Regions from separate parts of the Homo sapiens genome. Here region 2 is linked to region 1. A link means that fine-mapping ties the variant in region 1 to the expression of a gene that starts in the linked region. Tissue or cell type: whole blood. Region 1 holds a variant in brackets; the other region holds the start of a gene. All regions are shown on one strand. Distances are from middle to middle.

Region 1 (2,759 bases):
GGAGGTTGCAGTGAACTGAAATCACACCACTGCACTCCAGCTTGGGTGACAGAACAAGACTCCATCTCAAAAAAAAAAAAAAAAAAAAAAGACAATTCTGAAAGTGGTGAGTCGTTCTACCAGGGGCCAGGATGATCTCATCTGGGTTATGGATTCTAGGTCTGGCCTCATCTAAGGTGACACACAGAGGGTACACCGCACAATCTTCCTATCTTCTTTAAATATCACTGCTTTCAACAGGACTTTTTTTTTTTTTTTTTGAAACAGGATCTTGCCCTGCCCTGTCACCCAGGTTGGAGGGCAGTGGCATGATCATGGCTCACTGCAGCCTTGACCTCCCAGCTCAGCCTTCTGAGTAGCTGGGACAACAGGTGCATGCCACCGTGACTGGCTAATTTTAAAAAGTTGTTTCGTTTTTTTTTTTCTGTAGAGACAGGGTCTCCCTAGATTGTCCAGGCTGGTCTCAAACTCCTGGCCTCAAGCAGCTCTCCAGTCTTTGCCTCTCAAAGTGTTGGGATTACAGACGTAAGCCACCACGCCTGGCCCAAAAAACATAATAATGTGGTTATTCGAAGAAGTGATTTCCTCTCAAAACATAAATTCATTTCTTCTTTTACTCTTGTAACTTTCTGAGGTGAAAAGTAGGAAGTTCCCAGATTTTTCATTGCTGTAAAGAAAGATTATAGACAAGCAAGGAAGGAGTTAGAATAACCTGTGTGATAATGAATTAGAAGAGTTGGAGGTGTATGTAAGTATGCTCAGCATGAATTTATGTTTAGCTTAATGTAGATACAGATGGTTACATGTGGAAAGTATTTATAGCTATGCATAGATAGGTTGGTATATGTACATGTATTTTCTACCTCCTTTGGCTAAGAGGGCGCAGAAGCCATGACATCCCTGTTGCAACAAAAACACCTAGCACCATTTATCTTGGTTTGTAATACTATTCTCCAGTAAAAACAACCAGGGCTCCTTGCAGAAAGGGCTGATGATAATATATAAGATTAGCCTGGAGCATCTTATATATCAGAAAGCAAGGGAGTACTCAAAAACTAAAAACAATAAACTGCTCCCCAATAATGGGAGTATGTCAAAGGGTCACAGGAGCCATGTGAAAGAGTTTGCAATAGCCAACAAAATGAAGAAGTATTTGAATTTAAATCAGAGTATAAAATAAATATCTACGAGTCCATAATGATATAAACAAGTGATTGAATAAATAAATAAATGTGGGAGACTAGACAAATCCCCCATGCAGAAGAATTCCAAGTAATTTATGTAGGTAAATACTTCACTGTCAAAGAGGCAGAGCATAATTAATTCCCCACTCCTGTAAGTGTGGGCTGCTTAGTGACTTCCTTCCAGGAGTGCAGTATAAATAGGGAAAAGAAGACAACTTCACAGTGGAGGAATCTGGCAAACTCTGTCCCACCCAGATGATCAAGGTTTACATCAAAAGCACTAAGCCATGTTGATACTGCACTGTGTTTCCTTGATATAATGGGATGAAATGGCACTTTGTGTAGTCGTGCTTCCAAAAAACCTCATAGCCCTAGACTAATCATGGGAAGAACACCAGACAAATCCTAATTGAGGGACATGCTACTTAATTCCTGAAAAGTACTCCTCAATGCTGTCAAGGTCATCTGAAACAAGAAAAGTCTGGCAAACTGTCACAGTCAAGAGGAGACTAAGGAGATATGACGACTAAATATAATGTGGTATC[T/C]TGTATGGGATCTTGGAATAGAAAAAGGATATTAGTTAAAACTGAGGAAATCTGAGTAAAATATAGATGTTTGTTACTAATAATGTATCAATAGTAGTTCATTAATTGTGACAAATGTAACATACTATCGTAAGATGTTAATAATAGAGGAAACTGGATGTGAGGTATATGGGCACTCCCTGTACTGTTCACAATTGTTATGTAAATCTGAAACTATTCTAAAATGAAAGTGTATTTTATTTTATTTTATTTTGAGACGGAGTCTTGTTCTGTTGCCCAGGCTGTAGTGCAGTGGTGAAATCTCGGCTCACTGCAACCTCCACCTCCTGGTCTCAAGCGATTCTCCTGCCTCAGCCTCCTAAGTAGCTGGGATTACAGGCACGCGCCACCACACCCAGCTAATTTTTATATTTTTAGTAGAGATGGGGTTTCACCATGTTGGCCAAGCTGGTCTTGAACTCCTGACCTCAGGTGATCCACCTGCCTCGGCCTCCCAAAGTGCTGAGATTACAGGCGTGAGCCACCGCGCCCAGACAAAAGTTTATTTTTTAAAAGGTAGGAAAGTTTCACATTTTGATCGTACTATTGAGATAAAACTTGGTTGTTGTTGTTGTTTTTGAGATGGAGTCTTGTACTGTCACCTGGACTGGAGTGCAATGGCATGATCTTGGCTCACTGCTACCTCCACTTCCCGGGTTCAAGCGATTCTCCTGCCTCAGCCTCCTGAGTAGCTGGGACTACAGGCACCTGCCACTACGCCCAGCTAATTTTTTGTATTTTTAGTAGAGATGGGTTTCATTATGTTGGCCAGACTGGTCTCTAACTCCTGACCTCGTGATCCGCCTACCTTGGCCTCCCGAAGTGCTGGGATTACAGGCATGAGCCACCGTGCCTGGCCAAACTTGGTGTTTTCATCTGAGAATGAGGTTTCCAAGAATTGAAGATACAAGTTAGCTAAATAGTATCAGTGAAACCACAGAGTATAACTTCAGACCACTTGTGGTTTTAAGGCAGATCTATGCCACAGAGA
Region 2 (2,759 bases), 69 kb before region 1:
CAAATTTTCCTTATTTCCAACAATACTGGGGTATCATCTTCATACATACATTTTTGTGCACTTATGTGCCTATTCCTTTGTTTACTATTTTACCCTCATTTCTAAGGCAGATTACACTTGAGCTATGTTCCCCATTCCACAACCAAGCACGGCTTGCTTTCCTTAGTTTATGCTATTTTCTCTACCTGGAATGCTCTTTTCCTGTCTTGACCCACTGAAGTCGTATGTATGAATCAGGGCTTCGGCCAAAGGCTGTTTGCTGTAGAGGCTCTTCTACAGTGTTTGGAGAGAATTTAAGGGACTATCTCATCTCTCTCTTTTGTACATGTATTATAACACATCATCTGAGCCTCCTAGTCTCTCCCAGGACTCTTTTTTCCTACCAGTTTATCAACTGATAAGAGGCAGAAACGAGATCAATCGCACTCATCTGTGTACTCTATCACAGTGGTGGGCACATCAAGTAACTAGCATATTTTGACTTTGATTGAAGTGAAGAATACGAATAACAGAAATTAAGAAGCATCCTCAATATTGCATAGCAGGTTACTCTTCTTTTCTTTTACATAGGATGGCACTCCATGCTTCAGGGAGACAGAGGAGTTGAATACAGGTTTTAGTTTTTGTTTAAAGTGAAAACGACTCTGATGTAGTTGAAAAGTAATGCTTTCTAGCTGTCTGTTAAAAATGTTTGTTGGTTGAAGACTTCGGAATTGCAGTCCAGTGAGGACTGAAAATAAGCATCTTTGGTGTGCCAAATATTCATAAGGAAATTGTATACGAATGCAAGAGAATGGAACTGAAGTAATAAAATAAGGGCTCTGATCCTTCAGATGACTTATTTAAGAAGCCAGGTGGCATAACGAATCTTACATATTATAATTAGTACTGAGAGGTGAATGCCAAAACATAAAACAAACACAATCGAGACAATGTTAGTGTGACTGTGACGCTGTGTCGGTGAGTTGAGGCTAACGATCCAGTGTGGCTCTCCTGAAGGCCCACCGCGCCCGCACCTAGGAGACGCGCCCCTTCTGCTCATGCTTTGAGGCGGGGTGACCCACACATCTGTGCCCCTCTCTGAGCAGGAGGAGGCCCCGTCGCAGACGCGCGCGCAGACAGCGTCTGCCGCGGGCACCTGGGGCCGCGCGCCGCGGGGCGCCCCGCCTCCGCTCTCCGAGGCCCAATCATCTGGAGGCTGTGGGGGCACGTCCCGCTCCCGGCCACGCCCCCAGCCGGCGGGGCGGGGGGTGCTTTTAAGAACCGGCGGCTGGCAGTGGGCTCAGTCGGGGGTGCGGGGCTGTGACCTAGAGGCTTCAGTGTCGATCCCCGAGGTGTTCGCGCGCGCCAGCTGTCCTCGCGGCCGCCTGCGCGCTGGCCGCCTGCGCGCTGCCAGCCCGCCCGCCCGCCAGGGGCTCCGCCGCCCTCGCCTCGGCCTCGTTAGCCCGCCAGGAGCCCCGCAGCTCCTCCGGGAGCCCGCTGGTAACTCGCGTCCCTCGCGCTTCTCCGGCGCCTGAGGGGCCCGCCTCGGGCCATGGTGCTCTCCCAGGAGGAGCCGGACTCCGCGCGGGGCACGAGCGAGGCGCAGCCGCTCGGCCCCGCGCCCACGGGGGCCGCTCCGCCGCCCGGCCCGGGACCCTCGGACAGCCCCGAGGCGGCTGTCGAGAAGGTGGAGGTGGAGCTGGCGGGGCCGGCGACCGCGGAGCCCCATGAGCCCCCCGAACCCCCCGAGGGCGGCTGGGGCTGGCTGGTGATGCTGGCGGCCATGTGGTGCAACGGGTCGGTGTTCGGCATCCAGAACGCTTGCGGGGTGCTCTTCGTGTCCATGCTGGAAACCTTCGGCTCCAAAGACGATGACAAGATGGTCTTTAAGACAGGTGAGGCGCGGCGCCCGCCGAGGCCAGCCTGGGCGACCCGCGTGGGGCCCCCGAGCGCATCCCGCGTGTGGGCTGTGTCTGCCTCCGAGTGTGCATGTCGGTGGGTCCCTGTGCCAGAGGGTGCGAGCAGGGGGGTCTTTCGAGTTGCAGACAGAGCCTGCCGCTTCTGGGGCCTCGGGGTGCCCGTCTTTATATGGAATCCAGCTGCAGAGCTGTGTGTTTGCAAGCAGGTCGCAGAACTTACTTGCCGAGATCGTCCTCCTTTCCCCTCAGCAGAGCAGACGCTAACAGTCCACAGGAGCCCTTCCTTTTATTGTTTGAAAACAAACAGAACCCCAGAACCTTCAACCCCAGTCATCGCCCTGTCATTTTTGTGGTCTCTTTCGTGACTATGCCAGTTATGTAGTTCTTCACCTGCCTCCCTGGGCCGCAGAGGGGTGTGCGTATGTTGGCGGGGCGGGGGGTGGAGTTTGGAGGAATGAAAGAGATTTGTACGAAGGTCACTGGAGTTCCAAAGGGGGCCCTGCAAGAGTCACGGTTCCGTGCGTTCCCGTCCCCCCGCCTTTTTTTGCCCTCTGGGTTAAATGTAGAAAACACGGGAGGCAGCCGGATTAGGGACTAGGATGAGGAAGGTGAAGGGTTGCTTCTTCCCTCTTCCTGTTGTGTTTTTTGACATTTTTTTTTAACCATATAGTAAATTAGATACAAAAGGTGCAGATTCAGCGTTTTCTCCCTGTAGAGCATTATTATGACTTTTTGGCTGGTTAGGCAAAAAACAAATCTAAGACCTTCTGCATGACACTTTAACATAAATTCTTTCACTTTATCCTGCAAGGTGAGCGCGGTCAACCCCATTTGGGTGAGAAAACTGTAGCTCAGTGA

Evidence for each region. PIP is the estimated chance that this variant, and not a neighbour inherited with it, causes the effect.
Region 2: SLC16A10 starts here. The variant in region 1 is fine-mapped to the expression of SLC16A10 in whole blood (INTERVAL, PIP above 0.99).

What each region holds. Positions count from the first base shown.
Region 1 is chr6:111,154,955-111,157,713 of GRCh38, forward strand. All of the region lies in intron 1 of SLC16A10 (solute carrier family 16 member 10), which reads left to right. Among named protein-coding and RNA genes, the nearest start is that of SNORD166, 42 kb to the left of the region's middle. The variant T/C (reference allele first, on the strand shown) is at 1,730.
Region 2 is chr6:111,086,219-111,088,977 of GRCh38, forward strand. It overlaps SLC16A10 (solute carrier family 16 member 10), which reads left to right and starts at 1,285. Exons shown (of 6, transcript NM_018593.5): 1 at 1,285-1,877. The coding sequence starts at 1,535. RefSeq lists silencers at 966-1,645, 1,676-1,855 and an enhancer at 1,668-2,168.